2 separate regions of the Homo sapiens genome follow, and region 2 is linked to region 1. The links come from fine-mapping of genetic effects on gene expression. A gene starts in region 1. The other region holds a variant in brackets. All regions are shown on one strand. Distances are between the middles of the regions.

The links. PIP is the estimated chance that this variant, and not a neighbour inherited with it, causes the effect.
Region 2: its variant is fine-mapped to the expression of ETV7 in whole blood (INTERVAL, PIP 0.96).

Annotation. Positions count from the first base shown.
Region 1 is chr6:36,383,085-36,391,852 of GRCh38, reverse strand. It overlaps ETV7 (ETS variant transcription factor 7), which reads left to right and starts at 4,184. Exons shown (of 8, transcript NM_016135.4): 1 at 4,184-4,317; 2 at 6,184-6,319. The coding sequence starts at 4,312. PXT1 (peroxisomal testis enriched protein 1) reads left to right here. Exons shown (of 5, transcript NM_152990.4): 5 at 1-1,302. The coding sequence ends at 83. It overlaps ETV7-AS1 (ETV7 and PTX1 antisense RNA 1), which reads right to left and starts at 5,233. Exons shown (of 2, transcript XR_926758.3): 1 at 4,923-5,233; 2 at 30-77. RefSeq lists a silencer at 3,954-4,163 and an enhancer at 4,290-5,113.
Region 2 is chr6:36,416,405-36,425,172 of GRCh38, reverse strand. All of the region lies in intron 3 of PXT1 (peroxisomal testis enriched protein 1), which reads left to right. Among named protein-coding and RNA genes, the nearest start is that of PXT1, 22 kb to the left of the region's middle. The variant G/T (reference allele first, on the strand shown) is at 4,488.

The sequences.
Region 1 (8,768 bases):
ATGCACTAGATCATTTTGTCTTCTTTTTCTTTAGAAGAGTTCAGGTGTTGCTGCATTTTTTCTGGAACAACCATTTGCTGTAAAAGGAAAGTAAAGGTCAAGTGGTCAAGTTCTGTTTTCTTTTTACCCTCTGAGAAACATGAATCCCACTGGGACAGATGGGAAGAACACCCTTCTCCGTCTCCCTCTTTTTGTACCCATCACTGTTGGTCTACACCCAGTTTGTTGAAGAACTGCGGGTTCACGAGCCATTTGTCTCTTCGGAGGAGCTAGCTATGAGATGTCTGCGATCACATCACGGTAAAGCCCAAGGAGTAATTAGGACCCCAGGAAGCCTTGCTGCCCAGAAAACACCAGCGCTGTGGATGGTCCCAGGGCTCCTTGTGAGGAAACCTTGAACATTTCCTTCCAGGAATGAAAGAGAACCTCGTCCTCAAACTAAAGGCCACAGAAATGGGCACTACCTCCTGGCCCACTCCCTGGGCACCATGCCCTCTGGTGACCTGTTGGCTCCACTCTTGTCACTCATGTCCAGATCTGCAGTGCCAGCTTCTCCTTCTCGGTGACATGTCACCTCCCTGCCCCAATCCTGGCTCCAACCCTCTCTGGAAAATCGAAGTGAAACATTTGTCTCTAATACTCAAATTCAACATATGGCTCATCTCATCTACCTTCCCATTTCCATGCCTAGAGGCCCCACTACTACCACTAGCACCGTTGGGTGTTTCCTTCTCAGGCTCTGATTCTACAACATTTACGTTCTTTTCTCACCTTTGATCCCCTCACTCCTCTGTGACCCCCTTCAAGTCTTCCTTCACCACTCCAGTGTTTTCCCATACCACTCGACCCTGCTCGAAGGTATCTTTCCCTGCTCTGTCATCCTCTTTTAGGCATGCCTGCTTAAAATCGGGAGTGCTTAGTCCTTGGCCAACAGTCCTGCCTTCTAGAAGAATGTAAGACCTGAAAGAGTTATGAATCTATCACTAGGCAAAAACTTCTCTTTTCCTATTGCTGGATGGTTTTGCTATTATTGGTTGGTGGGCCCTTTGCCTGTGGAATGTATTTCACTCATTCTCTCCTGCACGCTGTTAGGCAGTTCTTTCACCTGCATGCTTCTTCTTTTACCTTTTTGTCTACCTCATAGTCCCTCTCTCCCCTCCTTTAAAAGAATTATAAATATTAGGAAAGCTTGTTGTTATAAATTAAAAGTTTACATATGTATCTTGAGTTCTTCATAGGGGAAGTGTTATTTTAAAAAATTCTAAAAATGAAATAAATATTGTTATTTTATTGAGCATGAAACCCCTGTGCATATTTCTTTTTTGAAGGAGGAACCCCACAGCAGGGTCTAGCCACTTATTCCTGCTCATATTGGTTTGTAGACTTTGATTATACATAGCATTGACTTTGTCCTTCCAAAGGGAAATGTCTCCATTTTTTAGTCTGTCGCAGGCAGTGCATATTTATTTCTATTATTACTTAGGTTCTGGCTGACTAGCCCTAAAACTGTCTTTTTAAAATTTATTTTGAATAGGTTTTTATTTATATGATTCAAAAATCAAAACAAGGCCAGGCACAGTGGCTCACGCCTGTAATCCCAGCACTTTGGGAGGCCGAGGTGGGCAGATCACGAGGTCAAGAGATTGAGACCATTGTGGCCAGCATGGTGAAACCCTGTCTCTACTAAAAATACAAAAATTAGGTGGGTGTGGTAGCACGCACCTGTAGTCCCAGCTACTCGGGAGGCTGAGGCAGGAGAATCGCTTGAACCCAGGAGGCGGAGGTTGCAGTGAGCCGAGATCATGCCACTGCACTCCAGCCTGGCGACAGAGCAAGACCCCATCTCAGAAAAAAAAAAAAAAATCACAACCATGTGAAAAGGTTTACAACAAAAACCCTTTCTATTATTTTCTACTCTAAATTCCAGTTATGCTTATTAGTTTTTATGTATCCTTCCAGAGGTTCTTTGTATAAATACTAATTAATACATACATACATACATACACACACACACACACACACACGTATATTTACATACAAGAGGTAGCATGTAATACACACTGTTTTGTACCTTGATTTTTTTACTTAGCGTGGGTGTTCAGGCACTGTTCTGGGTGTTTTATAAAAGTTAACTTACTTATTCATAACAACCTTATGGGATAGGTATTATTATTTGCTCTTTTTTACTGTTAAAAAATTGAGGCAGTAGTTAGTAGAGGGAGGCAGTAGAGTGGTTAACACAAACTTGCTCAAGGGCACACAGCCAGTAAATGACATGGCTGGGATTCCAAACCAGGCAGGTGTTCCTAAGTCTAGATTATTATCCACTATGCCATACTGCCTCTTGGAGAGCTTGCCATGATCCACAGAGAACTCCATAAAGTGTTGTATTGTATTCAGTTAAATGAATGTACATAATTTGGCTGGGTGTGGTGGCTCACATCTGTAATCCCAGTGATTTGGGAGCTGAGGTGGGAGATCACTGGAGCCCAGGAGTTGGAGGTTAAGGTGGGCTTTGATGGCACCACTGCACTCCAGCCTGGGCGACAGAGTGAGACCCTGTCTCTAAAAAAAAAAAAAAAATAGAAAATTAAAATTAAAAGAAATGAATGTGCATTAGTTTATCAAGCCTCCTTTTGTGGACACCTGAGTTATTTCTCATACTTTGCTATTATAAACCATGATTAAATAAGTAACTATGTATACTTTGGATATTTGTTGAATAAATTTCTGGTAGGCAGATTGCTGGGTGAAAGGAAAATGCATTTGTAAATTTGCCAGACCCCGCTGTGGGGTTGCACCACTTTACCTCAGCTTTTCCAGCAGATTATGTTAGTAAACTTTTAAATTTTTGCCAAATTTATGGGTAAAAATTTCTATCTCAGAATAACTTTAATTTGCACATTTAAAATAGTGAGTTTGTCTGAGCATCTTTTTCTTTCTCTGCTGCCCAGGCTGGAGTGCAGTGGCACAGTCACGGCTCACTGCAGCCTCCAACTCTCAGGCTCAAGCGATCTTCCATCCTCAGCCTCCTGAATAGCTGGGGCTACAGGTGTAGCCCCACCATGCCCGGCTAATTTTTTAAATTTTCAGTAAAGACAGGATCTCACCATGTTGTTCAGACTGGTGTCCAACTCCTGGGCTCAAGCGATCCTCCCACCTTGGCATCCCAAAGTGCTGGGATTACAGGCATGAGCCACTGCACCCTGGGCATCTTTTTGTATATTCAGGAGCCATTTGGCATTTCCTTTTATGTGGACTGTTTATTCATATCCTTTGCTCATTTTTTTTTCCTACTGGGTTTCTGGCCTTGTTCTTACTGGTTTCTTATTGCTGGCCTAGAGCTTGTGATGATATACCAGTGCTAAGCCTACTTTGTAACAGCGTCTACACCCTCAGATTTTCAGCAGAAGGTTGTTAATGCTTTTCTTTCCTTTTCTTCGGTGTCTTCTGGTTTGTTTTTATGCGCACAACCTCTCTTGAGACAGGGGGAGCTGAGACAGATGGAAAGGGTGATGGGTGGGCAGGCACCAACCCCGGAGCACCCAGAGGCCCAGGAAAAGGTGTCAGTCGGGATCTCCGAGTAGTCTGGCCCTGCTCAGGAGAGCACAGCCGCTCTGATGGTGGTGCGACGGTTCCGGACCTGTGGGGCCTCAGCGGGGCCAAACGGCAGGCCGAGACAGTATCGGGGCCGGGAAGGTCACTCACCCCTAAAGGGAGAGGCACCATGCGAGGCCCCTTCCTATCCTATGTGCGGAGACTCACAGGGTCCTTCCTGGTCCTGGGCTCGGGACCGTGAGAGACGCAGTTGGTTCCGAGTTCAGGACTAGGGGTCCCCTTAGATCCTCAGATCCTGCAGAATCCCGGCTCTGCCCCAGTGGGAGCCAAGGCCAGGTCGCCAGAGGGACTGTCCGCCGGCTGGAGGCTGTGTGCAGGACCCACGCCTCCCAGGCTAGCGAGCGGGCAGCGCCCCGGTGCTGCGCTCCCACGGGGCCGGCCCCTGCCCTGCCCTGCCCTGCTCCTAGCCCGCAGCGGCGCAAGTGGAACCGCATCCCGCTCTTTCGTTTTCGTTTCCCGGAAGGATAGCGATTACCGGAGCGCCTCGCGCGCCTGCCCGCCTGCGGAGGACCCGGGCGCACACGCCTTGGCGCTTCTCGAAAGAGATTTCCTCCCACGCGACCTTCCAGTTCTCGGAGCCAGGTTAGGGGTTTGGCGGAGGAGGACTGCGGGGCGCGGGCCTAGGGCCCCAGCAGCCACAGCCAGGGGAGCGCTCAAGACAGAAAGCCGGTGGCTTCCTCACCTCCACCTGTAATGCAGGTAAGAGCCTGGCGGCTGAACACGCAGCGCGCACGCAGAGCCACCTGCTCCCGCATCCTTTCCTCACCACCTAGATTTCCAAACCTATTTTATCAGACCTTTTACCTGGCGGGAATCTCTCTTTCCAACACATTCCTAAACCTCACATCCATCCCTCACTCACTTCCCCTTCCACCTCCAGACGCGGGTCACCGCCCCTGACTCTCTCGGTGTCATACACAGCTCTGAAGGCATCACGCACAGCCCCTGCGGGCCCTTTCCGCAGCCCCCTTACCACTGGTCGCCCCTACACCAACCAGATGTGAGGTCTTTGGAAGTTCGTGCGCCAGCCAGGTCCTCACAGCTGGTGAACGCATTCTCGCAGGGAGCCCCTCTTTAGCAGCCTCTCCCCACTCGCCGGTTTTCTAGGTGCCTCGAGACTGCCCCCAGAGCTGGCGCCCCGTCCCACTCCAAGGCCTTTCTCCACTCCCCTCTCGCCAGGACCCATACCCATTATCAGACCCTTCCCTGGCCTCCATGCTGAAACCCAGGAGTCTGATCCTCAGCAGCTCCGTGGCTGGCGTTTCCCAGGCAGTTACAGCCTCGGAATTCCCCGCTCCTCTTACTTGGATGAGGACAGAGGAGTAGACAAAGAGCCTCCTGCAAGCCTCCTTGGCAAGTCCGAGGCAAGTCCTGTGCCTTGAGCCCCTTCTCCAGCAAGGCAAGCTTCCCTTTCCCCACCAGGAGGCAACCCCTGAGGTCTGATTACTTGGGAAACAGCACCAAAGGGGGACCGGCTGGAAATGAAGTGAGAACGACCCGGAAAGGTGTTGAATCCCCTTTCGCAGCAGCCAAGGCTTCTGGAGTTTGCTTTGCTGGCTCCGATCCAAATTCTCTCTCGGCAGATATCTCTCCTCGGATCCCAAGAGATGAATGTAAAGCTTTTGACAATCCTAGAGTGAAAAATGACTTGATGGAGCTGGTTTCACTTTTCCTTTCCGTGCTGTGGCAGCCTGTGGCTGGGCATGAGCCCGAAGGAGCTTCCTATTCCTACAAAATCCTGCCACTTTCTTCATTTTCTCATCTGAATGGATGAACCCCGTCATCTCTGGGGGCCATGCTGATTGTTGAATTGTAAAGATACAGGCTTCCCGTGGTGAGACCTTAGGATTCAGAAATGTATCCTTATCCTTTCTTTTTCTCTTTTGAAAATAGTGTTTGTTTGTTCTGAGACGGAGTCTTGCTCTCTTGCCCAGGCTGGAGTGCAGTGGCGTGATCTTGGCTCACTCCAACTTCCGCTTCCCGGGTTCAAGTGATTCTCCTGCCTCAGCCTCCTGAGTAGCTGGGATTACAGGCGCCGGTCACCACGCACGGCTAATTTTTGTATTTTTCGTAGAGATAATGTTTCACTATGTTGGTCAGGCTGGTCTCAAACTCCTGACCTCAAGTAATCCACCCGCCCCAGACTCCCAAAGTGTTGAGATTATAGGTGTGAGCCACCGCACCTGGTCTATTTGTTTATTTCTGATTTAAGGTCTTTTGATCCTGGCCCCTCAGGTTTCCTGTGTTGTCCTCACCAGGGATCCAGTGAGGATTCCTAGGCTTTCAGATTTCAATCATACAAGTCTTGGCAGGGGATCCCTCTTGGAGTTAGGCACATGCATGGAAAGCTTGAATTGGAAGGATGTCATTTATTGTGTCCACTGGGTACAAAATGTTGATGGTACTGAGTTGAAGATATACATGGTTCCTACCTTTAAGGTTGATGCAGTCTTCTGGTGGAGATAAACACTCTTTCCCTTCCAAAAAAATTCTTAAGACATTTAAAGATGGCTGAGCCTTCACCAAGATGCTCTTCTTTGACTGTCCTGGTTTTTCTCTCTCTAGGAGGGAGAATTGGCTATTTCTCCTATAAGCCCTGTGGCAGCCATGCCTCCCCTAGGCACCCACGTGCAAGCCAGATGTGAAGCTCAAATTAACCTGCTGGGTGAAGGGGGGATCTGCAAGCTGCCAGGAAGACTCCGTAAGTAGAGGGGAGGAGAAAAGCTGAGTTTTTAAAAGTAAATTTTTATTTTGTTTTAGATCCAGGGTCTTGCTCTGTTGCTTACTTAGGCTAGAGTGCAGTGGTGTAATCATAGCTCACTGCACCTTCAACTTCCAGCTCCTGGGTTCAAGTAATCCTCCCACCTCAGCCTCTCCAATAGCTGGGACTACAGGCACACTGGCTAATTTTAAAATTTTTAGTAGAAATGGGAATCTCAGTATGTTGCCCAGGTTGGTCTTGAACTCTTGGGCTCAAGCTATCCTCTCGCCTCTGCCTCTCAAAGTGCTGGGATTACAGGTCTGAACCACTATACCTGGCCCTTAAAATTAAATTTTTTTTTAAATAAGAGACAGGGTTGCTCTATGTTGCCCAGGTTGTTCTCAAACTCCTGGGCTCAAGTAATCCTCCCATCTCGGCTTCCCAAAGTGCTGGGATCACAGGCATGAGCCACTGTGTCTGGCCAAAATTTTATATATATCTCATACCATAACTTTGTATTGCATAAATATATACAATTATTATTTATAATTTGTCAATTAAAAATTTAATTTTTGCCAGGTGCCAAGATTAACTTACCTTCCCTCTGTTTGCTGTTTCTTTGCTGAGTTTTCTTTAGCTTTTTGTTTGTGATGGAGTCTCACTCTTGCCCAAGCTGGAGTGCAGTGATGTGACCTCAGCTCACTGCAACCTCCGCCTCCCTGGTTCAAGCGATTCTCCTGCCTCAGCCTCCTGAGTAGCTGGAACTACAGGTGTGTGCCACCACACCTGGCTAATTTTTGTATTTTTTAGTAGAGATGGGGTTTCACCATATTGGCCTGGCTGGTTTTGAACTCCTGACCTTGTGATCCACCCGCCTCGGCCTCCCAAAATGCTGGGATGACAGGTGTGGGCCACCGCACCCGGCCAAGGTTAGAAATTTTAACACAACTTCTAAGAAACACTTTCTAATAGTGAGGTTCAAACACAAGACCCACAACTCTCCTCTGAGCCCTGGGAAATCCTATTTCCCTAAGACCAAACTTCCTAAGCTCAGAGGCTCACTAAATATCTATTGAATGAATTAATGAATGAATGACTAGGGATCTTCATCAAGAACACCAGGACCTCCAAACAATGCAGGATCACTTCTGTGGGCCCTTCTGAGATGGTCACCAGATCTTCCTGCACACTTCTAGGGACAGGCATTTCCTCCCCTCTTGAGGCAGCCTATTCTCTGATTGCATAACTCAGGGTGCAGGTCACCGTGGCCTATTTTCTCCTAGATTAGAACTCCTGAGCTACCAGTTCTGTTGCCTTGGGTTAGATTTCCCCAGGAGCAGACCCTAAAACACTGGTGAGGAGTAGGGAGGAAAGACAGAGAAGAGAAGGAAATCCCAAAGGTGTTCTTTTGGTCCAGTTAGCACCACGGGGATCTCTGGGGACAGTGAATCCTAAGTTATTCCAACCAGTGGGTAAGGGGATTATCCACTCACTTCCCTTCCATGACAGCATGAATGCTGTTTCCAGGGGTATTGGCTCTCCAGCATTTCCAAGTTACCCTGTACACTGGCTAAGGGGTTCCTGCAGCCAGAAAAAGCCCAAGGCAGAGTCAGATGGGGCATTCGGCAGCCTTCAGAGTGTGGAGGTGAGAGGCAGGGCCTATGGGCAGGGCCCCAGCAGCATCTTCTATACCTGTCATCTTAGATTCCATGACTCATATTTATTGGAACATCTGCAAATATTCAGACAATACAGTTCTGGCCCTTAGTAAATACCTGACAGTTTTAAAAGATAGGGGATGACAAATGACTCATTTTCCTGTCAACAGCATCCCAAACAAGCAAACTGCTGACACCAAATGAAGATTCGACTTTTCAGCCCTGTTGGGGGTGATCTCAGCCCAGTTTCCTAAATTTCTGGAAGCTGGGTTTCCATCTCTGCCCATCTCTCTGATGTTTATTCCCCGTCACCCACCCCATTCCCTCCCCTACCTCCAACCTCCATTTTAGTAGTCAGGACTGATTTGCCTCAGCAGGAAGTGAATAAACAAAACAGATCTTGTTTAGCCTTGTGAGTTGATGCTAAGAGGAGCACGGAAGTTATTTTCCTGTAGAGCTCACTTTTTTTGTGTTGATTTTCCTGACAAAGATGTGTAGTAAAGCAGTGGAAAGTCCACTCTGAGGACAACCGTGATGTCCAGGGTTGTGGCAAGGGTCAGGAGGTCTACTGGGATGGAGGAGTGGGATTCACGGAGATTCACAACTATGCTTCCCTGTATGGAAATGGGGAACAAAAGAGGATTCTCACCTCCCCATCCCCGGTCCATGGCCATGAGGGTCTGCCCAAGGCCAGAGTGAGTCAGGAGCTATGGGGGGACGCAGCTGCAGGGCAGGGACAGCTGGCAGTGCAGACTCTAGGACCATTTTCAGAACTGGGCTGATATCACAGG
Region 2 (8,768 bases), 33 kb before region 1:
AAATGTGTGATTCCTAAATGCCCCAGAATGCTGGAAAATTAAAGTTTTATGTTTTGAAGAGCATTAAAGGACAGTGTTAGGTAAATTTATGAGGTTTTAGGCTTTTAGATAAAAAATATGCTAGATACCTGAGAGGGATTATGAACATTAACTTCAACCTAATATCTAATTTTAAAAGAATTACATGCCACTTGAGAAAGGGAAATTTCAAGCATCCTGATAGTTGCTTGCCACCACACCAGATTTTTTTTTTGAGATAGAGTCTCACTTTGTCGCCCAGGTTGGAGTGCAGTGGTACAGTCTCGGTTCACTGCATGCCCGGCTAATTTTTGTATTTTTAGTAGAGCCGGGGGTTTCACCGTGTTGGCCAGGCTGGACTCCTGACCTCAAGTCATCCGCCCGCCTCGGCCTCCCAAAGTACTGGGATTACAGGTGTGAGCCACCGCGACCGGCCTGGTATCCATTTTTTAGAAAGCACTGAATTGACTGAAATTTTGAATCTTCATCTGTTTTTGTATTTGTTTTTGTTTTTTTGAGACGGAGTCTCGCACTGTCACCCAGGCTGGAGTGCAGTGGCGCGATCTCGGCTCACTGTAGCTCCGCCTCCCAGGTTCACGCCATTCTCCTGCCTCAGCCTCCCGAGTAGCTGGGACTACAGGCGCCCGCCACCACGCCCGGCTCATTTTTGTATTTTTAGTAGAGACGGGGTTTCACCGTGTTAGCCAGGATGGTCTTGATCTCCTGACCTCGTGATCTGCCCGCCTCGGTCTCCCAAAGTGCTGGGATTACAGGCGTGAGCCACCGCGCTCCGCCTGAATCTTCATTTGTTAATTCCGTTGTCAACAACAATTATTCCCCAAAGTCTGAGATTGTGTCACCTATGAACACCTTCTAGGAACTTGTAATTTTTTTTAAGAGACGTAATTCACTTAACATAAAGTTCACCCTTTTAAAGTGTACGGACAGAGGGTTTTAGTATACTCACAACGTTGTGCAATCGTCGCCACTATTCTAAGATTTTATGTTTTATTGTAAACTCTTTCCAGTATGTTTTCACACTCTACCTCCTGATCCTCAGATTCCTTGTGAAGCTGATCGCTGTCTTCCGAGGCGTTCTGTGGGCGTTGCTACTTTTGCCTCAAATGCTTTCCTAATTACAGTTTCACTTCAAAAGAAGAGGCAGGTGAAGTTACTAACGCTGCTGCCCTTGATTTAGAGTTAACAACCCACTAGCTAACGTACATGCTTGTTTTCATGCCTAGAACTCCCGTTTTACCATACGCGAGTTATATGTCAAATCTCATTAGTGACTGGTAGTCTGGTGGGCCACCAATGTGCTTTCAACGCCTGCCAAACAATTAGAAACCAGGGATCTTCCAATAAAGTGCTGTCTCCCATGTCCTCCCACTTCTGGCCCAGGACACCTGGGTTGCCTTTCTGTTCAGGCAGCAGCGCGTTTCTCCCCTTCATCTTTATGATACCACTGAAGAAATGAGGGATGTGCGGAATGAGGGGGCGGTGTGAGGGGGCACGAACTTGTTATTACGGCGTCGAGAACGCCAGATAGAGTAACCAAAGACTGATAGAATAAATAACGCTGGTGTGTGTAATTCGGGAACCCGGCCTCCCTAACTCCCGCTCCCGCCAGGAGCCCGAGGCGAGCTACGCGCGCGCCGCCGCCGGCCGCGTCGCCATGTGCGCTCCCCATTGGCCACAGCTGGCCCACGTGACCTCTATCGCCTAACCTGCTCGTCCGCGCGCGCGCTTTTTCCACCACAGAAAGCCTAGGGCGGGAGCGGGGTTCTCACTGGTTGCGCGGGTCGCGCGCCCAGCTAAAGTGCGCGAGGTGGTTCCGAGGACCTGGCGGCGCTCTCTGGCGGGGAGCCTGAGAAAATGCCTAAGTACTGTCCAGAGGAAAACTCTTACTGAGGAAGCAGGAGATTGAGGAGGTCCACCTCTCCCCTCAGTGGCTTCTGTCCGGGGCTGTGACACAGACAGACTGAAAATGGAAACCACAAGGCAGGAATGTGACTCGCTGAAGCCAAGATTTATCTCTTTGGGGGCGCTCTACACATACAAACATAACTCTTCGGGGGAAAATACATAATTTTTGTATGGGGAATTCAAAGCCACATTTTCTTAGAAGAGTTGAGGGTCGTGGGAAGTCCAGAGCAACCATCCTGATACACATCATTTAAGGGAAATTAGAAACTCCTGGGGAAACAAAGATGAGTAAAAGCAAAAGGAGGCCCTGCCCACCATTGCTGTGCGGGAATGGAGTGATTTGACAAGGGGCAGAAGTGTAATAATTACTGATGGGAAAGGGCTAAATAAATAAATGCGTGTGCATGTGTGTGTAAGTAGTATAAATGGGAAATATAATTGTAGAATTCAATAGAGAGTACAGTTTAGCTTATTTTTCTCTTTAAGAGTGCTTGGAAGCTTTGCTTTTGCTTTTTTTAATTTTTTGCCTCGATGGCTCACCAACCCTTCCTCCTCTAGATATACATTTTCTTTTTTAATTCGTTCATTCATTCCAGAAATTCTAGAACCTACTATATTCCAGGCACTGTGCTAGGTACTGAGATGACAGTGATAAATAAAAACAGTACCAGTTCCTTCAGTCATGGAGCGTATGGTCTGGTAAAGGAAGCAGACAGTAGTTAATTGCACATATCAATGTTAAATATAATGTGATAAGTGCTAAGGAGAGGTCTAGATGTCATAATGGGGGATTTGACCTAGCAGGGAGATCAGAGAAGGCTTCCCTCAAGATGCAACCCCTGACATGAGACCTGAAGGGGTTAAGGGGGATGGAGGTTGCAGACAGAGGGAGCAGCTTGTGCAAGGGAGAACTGGGAGCCTCTCCCCTTCCAATTACTGCCCATCTCACCCATTTCCACTATACATACATTAATCTTGCCCCTTAGTTCTCAGGAGACATTTGTTCTCTTAATTCCAAGTTCTTAGGGAGTGCCTGGTTGTAACCTACAATGATTGTTAAAGACAGTGTTATTCAATAGGTAAGTATACATATCTAATATACATATCAATATACATTTAATATACAATACATATTAATATACAGTCTAATATGCATTATCTCTGTTGTTTTGTATAAGAAAAATATACAATGACTGTAACAAATCGTAGGATATGATATATCTCAATAGAACTAAAAGTGCTGTAGACAAAGTAGTGAGAGATCACATGATTTTGGAAGACTCAAAAAAGGCATCTTAGAGAAAGTAATTTTCAAAAATCATTGAGGTAAGATTTGGTCAGATAAAGATACAATTTAGTTAGAGCATAGGGTTCTAAAAGAAGAGTAAGGAGGTTGGACCAATCAGTTGAAATACATTCCAAGGGCTTTGAAAACCAGTCTAAAAAGTTTGTAGAAACTAAGCTAGTGCAGCGGCTTGCCTCTGTAATCCCAGCTATTCCAGAGGCTGAGATGGGAGGATTGCTTGAGCCCAGGAGTTTGAGATCAGCCTGGGCAATGTAGCAAAACACACTCTCTAAAATATTTTTAAAAGTTTGTAGAAATTAAAAAGTTCTATTTAAGTTTTAAAAACTTTCCTGAGATACTTTTTCTCCCCTAATATTTGTCTTGGAAAATTTTAAATCTACAGAAAAGTGGCAAAATTAACTCTGTGGTTATTCGTAAACCCTTCCCACAGATTAATCAGTTTTGTTTTGCTTTGCTTTTTTTGAGACAGGGTCTTACTCAGTTGCTCAGGCTGAAGTGCAGTGGCGCGATCATAGCTCATGGCAGCCTCGAACTCCTGGGCTCAAGTGGTCTTCCTGCCTCAGCCTCCCAAGTAGCTGGGACCATAGGTATGCATCATCAGGCCCAGCTAATTTTTTGTTTTTTGTAGAGACAGCATCTCACTTTGTTACCCAGGCTCATCTTAACTCCTGGGCTCAATGATCCTGCCTTGTCCTTCCAAAGTGTTGGGGTTACAGGCGTCAGCCACACCTGGCCTTGGTTTTTTTTTGTCGTTGTTGTTGTTGTTTTTTAATTTTGCCCCATTTGCTTTATCCTAAGAACAAGGATATTTTTCTGCATAACCACAATACAATTATGACACTTCCGAGATACTTTTTTTTTTTTTTTTGAGACGGAGTCTCTATCTGTCGCCCAAGCTGGAGTGCAGTGGCACAATCTTGGCTCGCTGCAACCTCCGCCTCCCGGGTTCAAGCGATCCTCTTGCCTCAGCCTTCCCAGTAGCTGGGATTACAGGCGCACACCACCATGCCCGGCTAATTTTTTTGTATTTTTAGTAGGGATGGGGTTTCACCATGTTGGCCAGGCTATTCTCAAACTCCTGACCTCAGGTGATCCGCCCACCTTGGACTCCCAAAGTGCTGGGATTACAAGTGTGAGTCACCACGCCTGGCCCTGAGATACTTTTAAATTTAAATTTTGAATAAGTATTTATGAATTAATAATAAGTGACTTACCAATTTTAATTTTATAGCACGTT[G/T]TAAGTGCTATATGTTTGCTTAAAAAATATATTTTCTTGGCTAGAAAAATAAAGAATATGAAAAGGCATACAGTGAAGACTCTCTCTTTCATTCTTGTCCCCCATCTGCTCAGTTCTCACTCCCCCAGTTCCCTATCTTAGGCAACTATTGTTCTTAGATTCTCAGGTATCTTTCCAGAATTTCTTTATACAAGCATGGACAATTGTGAATATGGACTTTTGTTCCTATTTTTGGATGAAAAGTATCATATTAAGCACATGATTCTTACTTGCTTTGTCACTTAATATGATTTGGAGATCCTTCTGCATTAATGCTTAAATAACTTCCTCATTGTTTTTTACAGTGGCATAGTATTCCATTGTGTGGATATACCATAATTTATTTAAACTGTTCCCTACTGACTTACACTTGGGCTGTTTCCAATTACTTAATATTGAAACCAATGCTGCAACAGATAACCTTAAACATATTTCTGTTTGTAAAATTTGATTGATAGATAGATAGATAACATTGCTCCCTACATAGGTTGTACCAATCTAAATTCCCACCAGCAATTGTGAGAGTATCTCCAGGCTTTTACAACAGTGGCTGACATGTTGTAAGTGCTATATAAGTGTTTGCTTAAAAAATAGATTTTCTTGTTTAGAAAAATAAATAAATGAAAAGATGTACAGTGAAAAGCCTAGCCCTAAACCCACCTACTTAGGAGCTTACTCTTGGCTGAGGTGAATCAATGCATTGAGACCCTGGCCCTCTCTTCCCACACTATCTTCTCCCTCCCACTCTTGACTCTGTTGTAGGGTCTTGGAGATTTGGGGACCATTGCTGATCAAAGGCCAAATATTTCGCCTGGTTCTAAACCGGGAGCTTTAAATACATGAATGTGCATTATTGTTGCTGTTTTACAACTTTAAATGAAAGGAGAGCTGACTTCAAGACAAATGGAAAGGTAATGCTGTTTTTAGATAAAGCTACAGAGTAGCCAGCCTTTTTCATACAACCCTAACCTAATCAACAAATATCTATTGAGTACTTCCTATGTATAGGGCACTGAGCTAGGTCTTAGAGTTATGAAATAGATACATGCCCTCAAGGATTTCACCATTTAGTTGTTTAGACAGGCACAAAATATAAATAATCATTATGTCAAGTTTCAACATGCTTTTGCTTTTGGCGTACTCACTGCTTTCCTTCCTGTCTCCTTCCTCCTCTGCCCCTTTGCCTACCTAACTGCCCTGATCACTGAGCTGCCCAAGGCTTGTTGGTTTCCTTGTAGCTCCTTCATTTCTCCCAGTGTCCATTATTGAAACTTACCCAACTTGTATTTCACTTTCCTGATGCAGATATTAGGGTTTGTATTTCTCAAGTGATAATTAGTTATGATTAGTTATTCTGTTAAACTAATAGTTACAAATCAATATGCTTTTGATTGGCACAGGCAGGCCTAGCCCATTTGGAAGTAGGTGAAATTTGTTCAGTCTTCCCATTTGATTCCTGTCTGGGCACCTTCTCTCCTGGGTGAGCTCTCAACCCTCATTGATGTCCTCACTTTTTTTCAGGTGATTGTCAACTAATCATTAGGGTGTTATTTCAAAATGGTTTGAAGTGAGGATCTCAGGAGTATGTGTATGTTTCAAGATACAATTTTATAGAAAACTGAAATTACAGGCAATAGGGTTGCAATTTTGATCAGAAGGCCGTAAGCCACCGACTTAGGGACTTACCCTTGGCTGTGGTGAATTAATGCCCTGGCCCTCCCTGCCCCACACTATCTCCCCCCTGCCACTCTTTACTCTGTCATGGGATCCTGCAGTTTTGGGGACCATTACTGTCAGAGAACTTTGAACCCAGCTGGCAGCTGTGGCTCAGTGGCCTCTGGAGGAGAGTGGGAGTGTAACGGTGGAAGTGAGTCGGTACTCTCCAGTGCCCTCAGGCACTCTTCCCTTTATCTTCTCCCAGTCAGCTTGCAGCCTCGCTGCCCATGGTGAAAGGTGATTTTTTTTCAATCTCTATCACTCTGTGTAGGTGGCTGCCTTTTCCACTCAGCAGAAGTGGTTCTCACTAGTTGCCCAATGTATTTAAAAGTGTGGATTTGTATACTGATGCTGTATTTTTGTTGCATTAATTTTTTTTAAATCAAAGCAACTCAGGTTCATGGAAACAAATCAACTAGTACAGAGAGCTTATGTTGAAAAGGGGCTTGGACCAGCACCTGGCACATAGAAAGCCCTCTATTTGTTGAATGAATGAATAAATGAATGAATACAAAGTCAGTGTCCAGCCTGTCCTTTTCACCTCCACCCCATCCCACCATTCCATTACTAGCAGTGAAATTCCTTAATTGGTCATGTTTTCCAGTTTTCTAGATCCGTGATTCTTAACCCTGGGTGCATGTTAGAATTATCTGGGGAGCTTAAAAAACAAACAACAACAACAAACCTATGTGTATTCTCATTCCCAGACTAACAAATTTACTTTTTTTTTTTTTTGAGACGGAGTCTCGCTCTGTCGCCCAGGCTGGAGTGCAGAGGTGCGATCTCAGCTCACTGCAACCTCCGCCTCCTGGGTTCACGCCATTCTCCTGCCTCAGTCTCCCAAGTAGCTGGGACCACAGGCGCCCGCCACCACGCCCGGCTAATTTTTTATATTTTTAGTAGAGACGGGGTTTTACCATGTTAGCCAGGATGGTCTCGATCTCCTGACCTTGTGATCCGCCCGCCTCAGCCTCCCAGAGTGCTGGGATTACAGGCATGACCACCGCGCCCTGCCCACAAAATTACTTTTTAAGCCTCCAAGCTGATTGTCTTGTGCAGCCAGAATTCAGAACCAAACCAGTGTTCTAAATAATGTGCATTTACATTTATTCCTCTCTCTCTTTTTTTCTTTTCTTTTTCTTTCTTTCTTTTTTTTTTTTTTTGAGACAGGATCTCACTGTGTCTCCGAGGCTGGAGTGCATTGGTGCAATCTCAGCTCACTGCAGCCTTGACCTCCTGGGCTCAAGCGATCCTCCCACCTCAGCCTCCCAAGTAGCTAGGACTGCAGGCGTACACCACCACGCCCGGCTAAGTTTTTGATTTTTTTTTTTTTTTTTTTGTAGAGACGAAGTCTCACTATGTTGCCCAGACTAGTCCGAAACTCCTGGGCTCAAGCGATCCTCCTGCCACTGCCTCTCGAAGTGCTGGGATTGCAGGAGTGGGCCACCATGCCTGGCCTGCTGCTATCTCTTGGTTAATCAAACTCATATCATTCATTGACTCCGTGACATGGCAGATGAGGTTTAGCGCATACTGCACCCTCTCTTTTTCTCATATTTGATGTTAAATTATTATTATTATTTTGAGACGGAGTCTTGCTTTGTTGCCCAGGCTGAATTGTAGTGGCGCAATCTCGGCTCACTGCAGCCTCTGCCTCCCGGGTTCAAGCGATTTTCCTGCCTCAGCCTCCTGAGTAGCTGGGATTACAGGTGCCCGCCACCACGCCTGGCTAATTTTTGTATTTTTAGTAGAGATGGGGTTTCATCATTGTTGGCCAGGCTGATCTCGAACTCCTGACCTCAGGTGATCTGCCCGCCTCGGCCTCCCAAAGTGCTGGGATTACAGGCGTGAGCCACTGTGCCCGGCCGTTAAGTTATTTTAATACTTCTCTCTGTTGTCTTCATAAACTTAAATAATTTGCACTCCTATTTCTTATTTGATCCATGTTCAGCAATATCACATGAACTCCCATTTTGTAGGATGAAGATACTAACTTCCATGTCTTCTTCTCACCCAGTCTTCTGGAGCCTTCTATTTGTTCCCTATATTTTTTAATTCTTACATTTTTGAAGTTGTTACCATTTGCATTCTGGCCTCCAGCCACAGTCAGCTCTTCCATGCTATCCGTAAGTTGTTTCTAAAAGTTACAAACCAATAAACTTGGTTTACATTATAGTATCTATATAGTGTCTATCACCAGGTCTAGTGATAGTAGCTGACATTTATATAATACAGGATTTATTGTATAGTAGGTACTTTATGAACATCGTTGTTTAATAGTCATAATGATCAGAAGGTCCCTTTTTAAAAATGGGGAAACTGAGGCACAGAGAAGTTGAGGCTTACCTAAGAACAGGAAGTCAGAAAGTGACTGAGACAGAACTTGAACCATTTCCTACAGAAGGATAGGATGAATTTTTTTTTCTTTAGGTACAAGTTTAGGACCCTTGCCAGCTGGAAAGACAATGCACATCAAGGTCAAATACATATTTTTCTCTTCTCTGTTTTGGGGAGGAATAAGGGTGG